2 linked regions of the Homo sapiens genome follow. The protein of the gene in region 1 purifies or fractionates together with the protein of each later gene. This does not show direct contact. Each region holds a gene or a part of one and is shown in the gene's direction. Other genes may lie near its edges.

Region 1 (7,876 bases):
TACAGGCATGAGCCACTGTGCCAGCTAGCATAATATTTTTGAGGTTAATCTGTCTTGTATCATGCATTATTATTTCATCTCTTTTTATGGCTGAATAATATATCACACTGGTTTTTTGTTTGTTTATTTGTTTGTTTGTTTGTTTGTTTTTTGAGATGGAGTCTCACTCTGTCACCCAGGCTGGAGTGCACTGGTGCAATCTCGGCTCACTGCAACCTCTGCCTCCTGGGTTCACGCCATTCTCCTGCCTCAGCCTCCTGAGTAGCTGGCATTACAGGTGCCCGCCATCACGCCCAGAGAATTTTTTGGTATTTTAAGTAGAGACAGGATTTCACCATGTTGTCCAGGCTGGTTTCGAACTCCTGACCTCAACAGATCCGCCCGCCTCGGCCTCCCAAAGTGCTAGGATTACGGGCATGAGCCACTGTGCCTAGACCACACTGTTTTGTGTGCTTTTTTTGTTTGTTTTTGTTTTTTTTTGAGACGGAGTCTCGCTCTGTCGCCCAGGCTGGAGTGCAGTGGCGCGATCTTGGCTCACTGCAACCTCTACCTCCCGGGTTCAAGTGATTTTCCTGCCTCAGTCTCCAGAGCAGCTGGGACTACAGGCACACGCCACCACACCCAGCTAATTTTTGTATTTTTAGTAAAGACGGTGTTTCACCATATTGGCCAGGCTGGTCTCGAATTCCTGACTTTGTGATCCACCCCCCCCCCCGCCCCCAGCCCCTTGGCCTCCCAAAGTGCTGGGATTACAGGCGTGAGCCACCACGCCTAGCCTGATATATGTTTTGATATAACTGTAGCTTTGAAGTAATTTTTGAAATAAGAAACTGTGAATCCTCCAACTTTGTTTTTCTTTTTCAAGATTGTTTTGATTATTCAGGGCTCCTTTCAATTCCATATGAATTTTAAGGTCAGGTTTTCCATTTCTGCATAAAAGGCCATTGGTATTTTAACATGAATTGCATTGAATTTGAAGATTGCTTGGGGGTATTATTGCCATCTTAAGAATATTAAATCCTCCAATCCATGAACACAGGATATCTTTCTATTTATTTAGGTATTTGATATATTTCACCAATATTTTGTAGTTTTCAGGATACAAGTCTTATACTTCCTTGCCTAAATTTATTCCATAGTATTTCAGCCTTTTTTGATGTTATTGTAAATAAGATTTTTTTCTTAATGTCATTTTCAAATTATTTATTATCAGTGTATATAAATACAACTCATTTTTGTGTGTTGATCTTATATCCCACAACTTTGCTGAATTTGTTTATCATCTCTAAATTTTGTGGGTGAATTCTTCAAGATCTATATCTAAGATCATATCTTCTGTGAATGGAGACCATTTTACCTCCTGCTTTCCAATTTAGAGACAAGATATAAAAACGAGTCATAAGTATCTAAAGGTATAAATAGTTACAGTCAATATTTTGAAAATATAGCTATAAGTAACAACGTCAATAAATGTAGATCTAACATCCTAGTGCCAAAAGCCATGGTACATTCATACATAGAATGTTCTGGGAGCCTGGAGCAGGGACAGCCAGATTAGACTGTGGACCAAGGAAGACAGAAGAGTTGGTGCTATGACTGAGTCACGGAGTGCTAAATCTAGCTGGAGAGAGAGAATACATATATTAAATTGTAAATAACATAGACTAGTAGTGTAAGTGCTAAATAAGGCATTCAGTAATTAAAAAACACAAGGAAGGAATCTAACATTGACTGAGTGGAAAGAAAAGAAAGCTGAAATTTAAGGCAGAATTTAAGCTGAAATTTTAGGTAGAATTGAGACACAGAGGAAGACAGAGATAGAGAATGAGAAGAGTGGAAATCTCAGGTGAAGACACTGGGAGATGGGAAGTAGTCTTTGGTGGAATGGAATGGAATATTGTTGAAGATACTTTTAAGGTCTCAGGGGATAGATAGGTTTGGACAGCCTCAGTAGCTCACGTTCTATAATCCCAGCACTTTGGGAGGCAGGGACAGGAGGATGGCTTGAGCCTGAGAATTCAAGACCAGCCTGGGCAACATGGCGAGACCCCATCTCTAAAAAAAAAAATTTAAAAATAAGCTGGGCATGATGGTACACCTGTAGTCCTAGCTACTTGGTAGGCTGAGGTGGGGGGAATCACCTGAGCCTGGGAGGTTGAGGCTGCGGTGAGCTGTGATGATGCCACTGCACTCCATCCTGGGCAACAGAGCGATATCTTGTCTCCTTTTAAAAAAAAAAAAGATAGGTTAAACTCGAACTAAGTTAAAGTTAAAAACTAGGCTAAATAGATTGGATAAACAAAAAGATGTATAATGGAGAAAGAAAGAAATGTAAAGATAGGAATAGATATTGGAGTGAAAAGAGGTGAAGGAAGAGTGAACTTCACCTCTACAACGATATCTCTGAACCTCAGGCACAGATATACATATTCTGTTCCTACTTGTTGGAAGTTCTTTCTCTTTTTCTTTTTTCTTTCTCTTTCTTTTCTTTTTTTTTTTTTTTTTGAGATGTAGTCTCACACTGTTGCCCAGGCTGGAAGTGCAATGGCGCGATCTTGGCTCACTGCAACGTCCGCCTTCCAGGTTCAAACAATTCTCCTGCCTCAGCCTCCCGAGTAGATGGGATTATAGGTGCCCACCACCATGCCCAGCTAATTTTTGTACTTTTTGTAGAGATGGGATTTCACCATGTTGGCCAGGCTGGTCTCGAACTCCTGACCTGGTGATCTACCCACCTCGGCCTCCCAAAGTGCTGGGATTACAGGCTTGAGCCACCGTGCCCTGCCCTTCCTTTTCATTTTTTGAGACAGGGTCTTGCTCTGTTGCTCAGGCTGGAGTGCAGTGGCACAATCATGACTCACGGCAACCTCTGCCTCTCAGGTTCAGGTGATCCTCCTACCTCAGCTTCCTGGGACCATAGGCGCATACCACCATGCCCAGCTAATTTTTAAATTTTTAGTAAAGACAGGGACTCACTATGTTACCCAGGTTGGTGTCTAACTCCTGGGCTCAAGCAATCCTCCCACCTCGGCCTCCCAGAGTGCTGGGATTATAGACATGAGCCACACATCTGGCCGCAAAGTTCTTGAACGATGCTTGTCAAAAGATAGTTTAGGAATTCCTATGGTTTCTTATGTATCTTTCTGGAAGTTTCTTGTATTAATATTTAGGGCCAGGCATGGTGGCTTACAACTGTATTCCCAGCACTTTGGGAGGCCGACACAGAGGAGGATTGCTTGAGCCCAGAGGTCGAGACTGCAGTGAACATGACTGAACCACATACTCCAGCCTGGGCAACAGAGTAAGACCCGGTCTCAAAAAAAATTTTAGAATATGATGGTGTATGCATTAGATTAACAATGAGATTTCTGTAATTAATTTTTAACTATATAAGTAATATATTCACGTATTCTTTTTGTAAAAATGAAAACAATATGGACACAATTTAAGGGCTCCAATTCTGATCCTCTCCCTGAGACCAGTATTCATGTGGTGTGTATTCCTCCAAACCTTTGCCATGAGTTTACGTACTTGTGAACCCATATGAACTACATACCTTTAAACAAGAAGTGGTATACTATACTTTTGCTTCTGTAATTAAAAAAAAATCCAGCTGGGCATGGTGGCTCACACCTGTAATCCCAGCATTTTGGGAGGCCAAGGTGGGAGGAATGCTTGAGCCCAGGAATTCGAGGTTGCAGTAAGCTGTGATCATGGCACTGAACTCCAGTCTGGGTGAGAGTGAGGCCCTCTCTCAAAAAGAACCTCATAAAAACCCACTCAAACCCTTCCAAATCCACCATATCTTGGATTAATCCATATTTTAAACTGCTGCATGTATTATGGAATATAGACGTATCTGTGTAGACTGCAACAGTGAATGTTCCAATTTTTCACTGTTACTGTGTTGGACTGAACACCTAGAATAAGCTTCCTGGTGCAAACATGCTGGTGTTTTTTCCAGCACTGACAGCAATTAGTGAAATTGCTAGGAAAGAGTATTCTTATAATTTTTAAATTTTTATTCATTTTTCATTTTTGTGGGTACATAGTAGGTGTATATATTTATGGAGTACATAAGATATTTTGGTACAGGCATGGCAATGCCTAATAATCGCATTATGCAAAGTTGGGTATCCATCCCTTTAAGCATTTATCCTTTGTGTTACAAACAATCCAATTATCCTTTTAGTTATTTTAAAATGTACAATTAAATTATTACTGACTCTAGTCCCCTGTCATGCTATCAAATACTAGGTCCTATTTATATTTAGTCCTTCTATTAGTCCTTCTATTTAGCCCTCCCCCACTACCCTTCCCAGCCTCTGGTCACCATCCTATACTCTATTTAGGAAGGTGTATTTTTAACCGTAATTGGTCATGCAAATAGTCTTTAAAGTGCCTGCCCCAATTTATACCAGTTTACATGCCTATGTAGAGATCTGTAATCACTGCTTCTTTGACAGAGTTTCCATTAAGGAGGGTTCAGGCCTGGCAAACTCCCACCATGCCTCTGAGAGTAACCCAGGCATCACGCCCCTGTCCGCCTCCCCTGCACTTGTTTCGACTCCGCCCCTTCCGCCTGGCGGTTCCACTTCTCGGCCGCGCGTTTTCCCAGGGCTTGCAGCGGGAGGGGCGGGGCGTGGGTCCCTGTGACGTCACTGCCGGCCGGACGCCATCTTGCTGGTTTGCGGCCGGTCTTGGATGAAGCGGCGGCCGTGGTGAGAGCGTGGGGAAGGGTGGGGTGAGGGGGCGAGGCCGCAGCTAGGGCGGCGAAACTCTCCTCCCCTCGGCCCCACCGCGTGGGACGGCGTGAACGTGGTGTCGGAGGGATGTCAGCCTTCTCTGAGGCGGCGCTGGAGAAGAAGCTGTCGGAGTTGAGCAACTCGCAGCAGAGCGTGCAGACCTTGTCCCTGTGGCTCATTCACCACCGTAAACACTCGCGTCCCATCGTCACCGTGTGGGAGCGGGAGCTGCGGAAAGGTGAGTCAACCGCTTATGTCGGCCGCTTCCCACCACCCGGCCGGCCTCCAGGCGCCCCCGGGAACCCCGTTTCTCCAGCGCCCCCGGCTTCCCGGCGTCGGGATGCCAGCGCGCGGTGGTCTGCGGGCTTGGAGGAGCTGCGTGCACCACGCTTCTGCAAAGTCTGGGCTTAGATATTTATTGAATAAAGGAATGAATAATTAAAAAAGAAAACTCCGGTTAGCTTAACACGGAAACAGTAGCAGGGGGTTGGGACTCCACACCCAATTAGGGCCAGAAATTCAGGTGGTCAGGTATTTTTTTCATTCTGTGAATGATAATGGAGGATAAGGGAGGGAGAAGGTAGGGGAGTGGAAAGAAAAAGATTGGTGTGGGTTTGGGAGTTACTTCCGTCATTTCTGTAACGCAGCAACTTATTCTTGTGAAATTAATAGAGGAATAGTTTTAGAAGTCTAATATAAGAAGATGGGTAATGCAGTGGAAAAGACTCTGAATTTGTAGATTTTAGAGGGTCTCAATTGGGCAAGTTTCTTATAACTTCTGCGTTGCAGATGCCTTACCTGAAAAGGAGAGATTTAGAGTAAGTCACCTAAAGTCCTTTCCTATTCTATGATTATATGCCCTAATGCAGTGTCTTTGTTTTGCAAAACATTTGATAGTGTTCCTGTAAATGAAGTAAACTTTTTTGAGATGTCTGTCACTAAAATATTCAGAATCAGTTCATGTATGCAGAGCAACTTTGTAAAAAATTATCCTAGTGCGACTGAAAATAAAAAATTTCATTTGCTTAGTCTGAGCTTGTACTTTAATTCTTAATTCATTGGGTAGAGTGGACACTCTTCATTATTGTTGCAAACATCCTGATGGATATGATGGTTTTTTATCAAGTGTTAAAGGTTTTAACCGTTATTAATCAAAATAGACGCTTGCTTACTGAACCTTGTGAAAGCTATATGATGTATGTACGTAACAGCCAAAATGTGAGCCAAAATGTTGGCTGTATATAATGGAGACAATCTGTCCTTGTATATTGTTTGTGGTTATGAAAACGTCACCCATCCTTGAGAAGAAATTGATTTACAGCCTTGTTTTTCAGTTTATGTGTAAGTATGTGTGTATTGGCCCTGAATGAGGAATTCATCTTCTGTGAGTGGACGGAAAGGTTTCAGAAACACTGATATAAAGGTCTGGAAAGTAGCTGTGAACTTTGAAAAGTCAGGAATTAGCTTTGCTTTTACATTTTACTAGATTTCAGAATCGGTAACAGGTTTATCTTGTTTTTTGTTTTTGCAGAGAGCATTTAGAAACACATGTAATCAGTATAGGGTTGATACCCAGACTCTCTTAATAACTATTACAAATCAGTAAAAAAAAAAAATGGCAGTACTGTTTATAGGCATTTCACGTGAGGAAACCTGAAAGGTCAATAAATGATACTTAATCTTACAAATCAGGAAAAAGTAAGCCAGTGAGGTACCACTTTATGTTCATCAATTTGGCAAAATAATATGACAATATGGATAATTGTTGCAGAGAAACAGGAACTCTTATACCACTTGGTGGGAATGTAAAAATATGTAACTATTTTGTAGATCAACTTAGTTGATGAAGTTGGAGGTATATATTAAATATATCCTTTGACCTAGCAGTTTTCTTTCTAGGAATATATTCTAGAAATAAGTATTGTTCTCAAGAATTGTTTATTGCAGCTTCATAATAACAAAATTGAAAACAAGTGAGACCCTGCCTGTGCAACATAGTGAAACCTTTTCTTTACAAAAAATAAGAAAACAAAAAAACCATTCCATTAGTTTGAGAATGGACAAATAAATTGTGATATTAATAAAATGTAATACTATCGAAAAGTTCTCACGAATGGACTAGAGCTGCATGAAACAACGTGACTGAATTGAAAAACAAACAAAATCTTGAGCTAAGAAAACAAGGTACAGACGAATAATGCTATGGGGGTAAAGTCTAAAAACATGCAAAACAGTACTTCTTTTGTTTATAGATACCTATATTAAAATATGCATAGTAGTGATTAACACCATATTCCAAGATAGTGGTTGTCATAGTGTGTCCAGAATTGGTGGGTTCTTGGTCTCGCTGACTTCAAGAATGAAGCTGTGGACCCTCGCGGTGTTATAGTTCTTAAAGATGGTGTGTCCGGAGTTTGTTCATTCTGATGTTCAGACATGTCTGGAGTTTCTTTCTTCTGATGGGTTTGTGGTCTCGCTGGCTTCAGGAGTGAAGCTGCAGACCTTCACTGTGAGTGTTACAGCTCTTAAAGGCAGTGCGTCTGGAGTTGTTCCTTCCATCCGGAGTTGTTGGTCCCTCTCGGTGGATTCGTGGTCTCGCTGGCTTCAGGAGTGAAGCTGCAGACCTTCGCGGTGAGTGTTACAGCTCATAAAGGCGGCAGGGACCCAAAGAGTGAGCAGCAGCAAGATTTATTGTGAAGAGTGAAAGAACAAATCTTCAACAGCAGGGAAGTGGACGCAAGCGGGTTGTTGCTGCTGGTTTGGGTGGCCTGCTTTTATTCTCTTATCTGGCCCCAGCCACGTCCTGCTGATTGGTCCATTTTACAGAGAGCTGATTGGTCCGTTTTGACAGAGTGCTGATTGGTGCGTTTTATGATCCTTTAGCGAGACACACAGCACTGATTGTTGCATTTACAAACTTTTAGCTAGACACAGAGTGCTGATTGGTGTGTTTACAAACCTCTAGCTAGGCACAGAGCACTGATTGGTGCGTTTACAAACCTTGAGCTAGACACAGAGTGGTGATTGGTGCGTTTACAATCCTTTAGCTAGACAGAAAAGTTTTCCAAGTCCCCACCTGACCCAGAAGCCCAGCTGGCTTCACCTCTCAATGGCACTCGCCGCGGGACTTT
Region 2 (7,333 bases), on another chromosome or scaffold:
AAAAAAAGTGGGCCGAAGACCTTAACGGACACATCATCAAAAAAAGATACAGAGATGGCAAATAAACATATGAAAAGATGCTCCACATCAGGCTGGGCACAGTGGCTCACACCTGCAATCCCAGCACTTTGGGAAGCCAAGGTGAGCACATTACCTGAGGTCGGGTGTTCAAGACCAGCCTGACCAACATGGAGAAACCCTGTGGCTACTAAAAATACAAAATTAGCCAGGCATGGTGGCGCATGCCTGTGATCCCAGCTACTTGGGAGGCTGAGGCAGGAAAATCGCTTGAACCTGGGAGGCGGAGGTTGCAGTGAGCCAAGATCGTGCCATTGCACTCCAGCCTGGGCAACAAGAGCAAAACTCCTTCTCAAAAATTAAAAAAGTCCATGCACAGTGGCTCATGCCTGTAATCCCCACACTTTGGGAGGCCGAGGCGGGTGGATCACCTGAGATTGGAAGTTCAAAACCAGCCTGACCAACACGGAGAAACCCCATCTCTGCTAAAAATACAAAATTAGCTGGGCGTGGTGGCACATGCCTGTAATCCCAGCTACTCAGGAGGTTGAGGCAGGAGAATTGCTTGAACCCAGGAGGCAGAGGTTGTGGTCAGCCAAGATCACTCCAGCCTGGGCAACAAGAGCAAAACTCCGTCTCAAAAAAATAAAAAAATGCTCCACATCATATGTCATTAAGGAAATGCAAGTTAAAACAACAATTAGATACTGCTACACACCTATTAGAGTGGCCAAAATCCAAAAGATTAACAACATTAAATGCTGGTGAGGATGTAGAACTGATGGAAATGCAAAATAGTAAATCCACTTTGGTAGGTTGATGATTTTTTCTTTTTTTAAGTAGCTGGGATTACAGGCATTCGCCAACATGCCCAGCTAATTTAGCATTTTTAGTAGAGACGGGGTTTCTCCATGTTGGTTAGGTTGGCCTCGAACTCACGACCTTAGGTGATCTGCCCATCTCGGCTTCCCAAAGTGCTGGGATTACAGGCATGAGCCACTGCGCCTGGCCGATTTCTTTCTTTCTTTTTTTTTTTTTTTTTGAGAGGGAGTTTCAGTCTTGTTGCCCAGGCAGTAGTGCAATGGCGTGATCTTGGCTCACTGCAACATCTGCCTCCCAGGTTTAAGCAATTCTTCCGCCTCAGCCTCCCAAGTAGCTGGGATTACAGGTGCCTGCCACCATGTCCAGCTAATTTTGCTTTGTTTTATTTTATTTTATGTATGTATGTATGTACTTATTTTGAGACAAAGTCTCACTCTGTCACCCAGGGTGGAGTGCAGTGGCGCGACCTTGGCTCACTGCAACCTCCGCTGCCCAGGTTCAAGCAATTCTCCTGCCTCAGCCTCCTGAGTAGCTGGGATTACAGGCATGTGCCACTGCGCCCGGCTAATTTTTTGTAATTTTAGTAGAGAGGGGGTTTCGCCACATTGGTCAGGCTGGTCTTTAATTCTTGACCTTGTGATCCACCCCACTTGGCCTCCCAAAGTGCTGGGATTACAGGTGTGAGCCACCGCACCTGGCCCTGTATTTTTAGTAGAGATGGGGTTTCACCATGTTGGTCAGGCTGGCCAGTTTCTAACTCTTGACCTCGGGCGATCCACCGGCCTCGGCCTCCCAAAGTGCTGGGATTACAGGCATGAGCCACCGCGCCCGGCCTTAGGTTGATGATTTCTTACAAAAGTAAACATATTCTTACCATATGATGTAACAATTGTGCTCCTTCGTGTTTACCCAAGGAGTTGAAAATATATTCACCCCAAAAGCTGTACAGAGATGTTTGTAACAGCTTTATTCATACTTGCAAAAATGTGGAAGCAACCAAGATGTCCTTCAGGTGAATGGATAAATAAAACTGGCACATCTGGACAGTGAAATATTATTCAGCACTAAAATGAAATGAGCTATCAAGCCATGAAAAGACATGGAAGAAACTGAAATGCATTTTTTTTTTTTTTGAGGTGGAATCTCATTCTGTTGCCCAGGCTGGAGTGCAGTGGCCTGATCTTGGCTCACTGCAACCTCCGCCTCCCAGGTTCAAGTGATTCTCCTGCCTCACCCTCCGGAGTAGCTGGGACTACAGGCGTGCGCCACCATGCACGGCTAATTTTTGTATTTTTAGTAGAGACGGGGGTTTCACTATGTTGGCCAGGCTGGTCTCGAACTCCTGACCTCGTGATCCACCCACCTCGGCCTCCCAAAGTGCTGGGATTACAGGCATGAGCCACCGTGCCCCGCCTGAAATGCATATTATTAAGTGAAAAAAGCCAGTCTGAAAAGGCTACATACTGAATGATTTCACCTATATGACATTCGGGAAAAGGCAAAACTATGAAGACAGTAAAAAGATTAGTAGTCGCTAGGGGAATAAGGGGGAGGGAAGGATGAATAGGTGGAACACAGAGGTTTTTAGAGCAGTGATACTGCTCTGTATGATACTGTAATGGTGGATACATGCACATTTGTCCAAACTCAAGGTATAACACCAAGAGCGAACCCTAATGTAAACTATGGGCTTTGGGTGATAATGTGTCAGTGTAGGTTTGTCAGTTGTAACAGATGTATCGTTCTGGTGCGTGACATTGATAATGGGGGAGGGTATTCATGTGTGGGGGCAGGTGGTATATGGAATTCCTTGTGCTTTCCACACAATTGCCGTGAATCTAAAACTGCTCTAAAAATAGTCTATAAAAAAGTGGGTCTTTGGCTAGAGTTACAGAAAAAAAAAAAATGTGGGGTCAGGACCAGGCATGGCGGCTCAAGCTTATAATCCCAGCACTTCGGGAGGCTGAAAGCAGGAGGACTGCTTGAGGCTAGGAGTTTGAGACCAGCCTGGGCAACATAGGGAGACTCCCCCTCTCAAAAAAATGTTGTTGTTGTTGTTTTGTTTTTTTAGCTAGGTGTGGTGGTGCAGGCCTGTAGTCCCAGCTACTTGTGCTGCTGAGGCAGGAGGACCACTTGAGTCTGGGGGATTGAGGCTGCTGTGCGATATGATAGTGCCACTGCACTCTAGCCTTGGCAGGGACAGAGCGAGACTGTATTTTAGAGCCTTTGCACTTGCTGTTCCTAATGCCAGCATGTTCCGCTCCCCGTCTCGCATATCTGCTTGGTTGCTTTTTTCTCAATGTTCAGATCGAGTTATTTCTTTCGAGAAGACTTCCTGGTTCACCATACCACCATTCTTATACTGGCGCGTGCGTGCCGTGCACACGTACACACACGCGCGCACACACACACACCCCTTTCTCCCTTACCCTGCTTCACCTTTTTACAGAATTTAATACTGTCTGAAATGTACTTGTTGGTGGTGTCCTGCCACTAAATCCCGGAGGGAACGGATTTTTGTCTGTTTTGCTCCCCATGATCTAAAACAGTACTTGGCACAAGAGGTTCAACAACTCGTTGAATTAATGAATAGTGGACATGAACTTGACAAAACAGGTTCCCTGCCTCAAGAGGCATGGCCGCAGTGAGGAGACGTTAAAAGAATTAAAACTGTATATGTTTAGTGGGAACACAGGAGCCTTTAAATTAGCTCAGAGGATTTACATAGATACCTGCGATAAAATGGTTCGTATAAGGTTCATATAATAGTTACGTAAGACTCTTGAAAACTGTAATGTATTATGCAATTTTAAGATTGTATCATAGCTGGCGAAAATGAGGTCACATCTTGCCATTCTTTTTTCGCCTCGAAAAATTTTATGAGGAAAATTTCCTTTCACTTCCTCATTTATTTCCTTTTCCTGTAACCTAAATGGTCAAGCGGCTGTGAATGTTATCTTCTATGGGCAGCAATAAATACGGTTTGGTGTCGGAGTCTGCGTAGTGAATGGCTCACTGGATCTGGCGCATGCGCATCTTTTGTGGTGCCGCAAGATGGCTGCCAGCCATTTTGTCGCGCGTTGCTCCTCCGAGGAGTTGGGGGCGATGGCTGCAGCCCCCTGAAGACTAACAGTGGTCTCAGTGGTGGGAATTTTCTGTCTCTGTTGTGTGAGCTGAACACACCCAAGAGAGCGGCCAAAAGCAGCAAAGGGCGGGGCAGGGGAACCCCCCCACCCGGCTAACCTTAGTTATACCAGCTCCCTCACCCATCCCTCCCAGTTTTTCCTTCCATCCCGTTACACGCTTATCTTCTGCGCAGGCGCAAAAATAATCGTAGCGCCTCCTGGGCCCTGGGGGCTTCAGAGCTCCTGCGCGCGCTTGTGGTTCTCCACTCCTGATTGGTCAGGTTGCCCCGCCATCACGCCTCCCTCTGCTTTCAAGGTTGAGAAGGAAGCAGGGGTAGGGGGGTGGGGCCAAGTGGCGCGTGCGCGATACTGTTGCTGCCCCTTTGCTGCTATTGCGTTGCAAAAAAAATCCTGACTAGGTAGCCTTGGACCTTTTCTGTGCTAGCGAGTCTAAAGGAAAGAAAGATTTCTGCAACTGAAGGGGCAGTCGGGTAGTATTACATTTAAGATATTAACGCCCGACCTGGCTCACAGGAGTGTGGGAACAGGGGCGGGGAAGGGCCTTAGCACTGAGAGCCGAAAAGTATAAAACGATTAGTTTCGGCGTCAGGCGTTTTGAAAGGCTTTGCAGGTCCTGTTTTCTGCGTAATTTTTCCGTGATTACTGACTGGTTTAAACACGACCCCTTGAACAATATTGATAAAACCTCCGAGACCCGCAGCCCCTCCTTGCAGCGTGTAGGAGCTGCCAGCGTGCCCAGCAGCTGGTGTTCCCGTCCGTACCTCCAGAAGAGCCCAGCGCGTGCACCATCCCCACCCCCTAGCTTCCCTCCCCACCTACGGCTTTCACGCACTCGCAGTGATTGTTTTGCCCGCTCCCGCCGCCGCCGCCGCCGCCGCCGCCAGAGGAGCAGCAGCGCTTGTGCAAACCGGGAAGATGGCGGCCGGCGGCGGCGGAGGCAGCAGTAAGGCCTCCTCCTCGTCGGCCTCTTCGGCAGGGGCTCTGGAGTCCTCGTTGGATCGAAAATTCCAGTCGGTAACCAACACCATGGAGTCCATTCAAGGCTTGTCGTCTTGGTGTATAGAGAACAAAAAACACCACAGTACTATCGTCTATCATTGGATGAAGTGGCTCCGGAGATGTGAGTGTTGGGGGTGACTAGGGAAGGGAAGACTGGGGAAATGGAAGGAAGTGTGGCCTGAAACGCTTGGGGTTTTCCCACGGAGCCGCAGCATTTGGTTGGGGTTGTTCACATTAAAGGTTTGACCCCAGTGGTCCCAAACCCAGACTCCATTCCTAGCCAGGATTGTCCTGAATTGCAGGAGACTCATTTCTTGGGTTTTTTAGCCATTGAATTGTTGTGACCTTGGGCCGTTGGGCCCAGATCCATGGAGATTTACGTATATTGTTTTTAATATTTCAGAGCCTTGTAAGGTGTATTGATTTTTCCGAACCTTCGCGGAAATTGTAGCGTCTGTTTATTTCTTACAGGCCTTGACGTGTTAATGATTTCTGGCTTTCCTGATGGTAGGCGAGCTGTGGTTTTAAGCAGTAGTAAATCCAGTGATGTTTAATGAGGAGTGCCTTGTCTGGATGAATGTATCTAAAACTTGTGATGTGTAGTAAGGAGAGCCTTACCTGGATGAATGTTAAGAAGCAGCATGAGCTCTACATAGATCTGAGGCACCACCGGGTTTTCCCTGTACCTGTGTTTGCTGCAATAAAATACAGGTTTCTTGGATACTGACCAGAAACAACTGCGATACAGTAGTCAGTATCATCGTTAATACCTTCAAATATAAAGCGTGTCCAGTTCCTCTTTTTTTTTGAGACGGAGTTTTGCTCTTGTCGCCCAGGCTGGAGTGCAGTGGCGCGATCTCGGCTCACTGCAACCTCCACCTCCCGGGTTCAAGCGATTCTCCTGTCTCAGCCTCGCGAGTAGTCGGGATTACAGGCGCCCGCCACCATGTCCGGCTAATTATTTGTATTTTTAGTAGAGACGGGGTTTCATCATTGTGGCCTGGCTGGTCTCGAACTCCCGACCTCAGGTGATCCACCTGCCTCGGCCTCCCAAAGTGCAGGGATTACAGACGTGAGCCCCCCGTGCCCGGCCCCGTTACTTTTTAATTACCTGAAATACCTTTTTACACAATTGAGTTGATCTCATGGGTAATGTGCACAGGAAATGTGCTTTTTGAATATGTAGTACCTTTTTCTCCAGTTATGTTTTTTTTGTCTTTATCCTGGAGATTTTTCCATTTTGCTGCTTTACTGCAGAAACGAGCTCTGTTAAAGCATGGATTGTTTGCAGAACGTTTCAAATCTTATAGGAGGAAGTGTGGAGAAGTTACTGTTTCCTGCTGAGAAGAGAGGGTTAACTCATACTCCATATACATCTATTAGAATTTTTCTTTGCTTCCTGCCTGCGGCATTTCACCAGTGAGACCCATCATCCAGTTATTCTGCCTTATTCCACTTCTGCCATTGCTCCTGTAGTGTTTTGATTTGTTTACCTTTTAGAGAACAGATAGATAAAACTTGCAAAATTATAGGCCCCATGCTTCGAACTATTTGTGTTTAAAGTTTTGGGAGGGATGTTTTGTGGTTCTTTGAATAATAATGCAGAGAAATTAGTAGATACCGGACAGAATTACCTGTGTTTACCAATAACCGATCAAAGAGTTATTTTCTTGCCCAGAGGTAAAATTATAACGTGCAAAAACATCAAATATGATAACAGTCATCATTGAAGACTCACATGTTAAGTATCTGCTATGTGCCCAGTCATCTCATTGTACCTTAAAATCGTCTGAGAAGTAGATTTTTTAATCACTGATTTACAAACGAGGAAACTAAGACTCGGAAATTAAGTTGCTTAAGGTTACTCAGTAAAATGGTGGGGTTAGGGTTTGACTTCATCATTAACTTTGTAAAATAATGTTTAACGTTCTTGGTATACCAGTGATATATTGCAAACAGTTCTAATGTGAGTGAGAGAACCTCTTCTCCACCCTATTTTAAAACATTTTTACTGACCTATGCAAGCATTTTACATTTCCTCACCTTGGGCTCTGGGGCTTTAACTGTATGGTTACATCATTTGCAAGAATAAGTTGGTCCCTGTCCCGTCTCTGCTGTGTGGGATCACAAGCGACAATTACAGTTTTTTTTCTAGTCAGCAATAATGAGATAAAATGAAGCCAGAATTTTTTACCTCAGCTGTTGTTGCTATTGTGCCTGAGCTTATTTCCTTTATTGATATCTTAAGAGTGAAAAAATGAATGCTCCAGGAGGGCAGTGTGTCAGTTGAAGTGCATTGTGTATAGTTTATATAGTTAAGTGCTTTTGGCTAAATATGATGTTGTTTT

Evidence for each region.
Region 2: the proteins of RPRD1A (region 1) and RPRD2 purify together in Homo sapiens (affinity purification with mass spectrometry; 2 studies listed by BioGRID and IntAct, with this or other methods). This does not show direct contact.

What each region holds. Positions count from the first base shown.
Region 1 is NC_000018.10:36,064,361-36,072,236, reverse strand, and holds the start of RPRD1A (regulation of nuclear pre-mRNA domain-containing protein 1A), read left to right. Parts: upstream 1-4,677; 5' UTR 4,678-4,832; coding exon 4,833-4,983; intron 4,984-7,876. UniProt on the Homo sapiens protein: Interacts with phosphorylated C-terminal heptapeptide repeat domain (CTD) of the largest RNA polymerase II subunit POLR2A, and participates in dephosphorylation of the CTD by RPAP2.
Region 2 is NC_000001.11:150,359,814-150,367,146, forward strand, and holds the start of RPRD2 (regulation of nuclear pre-mRNA domain-containing protein 2), read left to right. Parts: upstream 1-4,333; 5' UTR 4,334-4,901; coding exon 4,902-5,106; intron 5,107-7,333.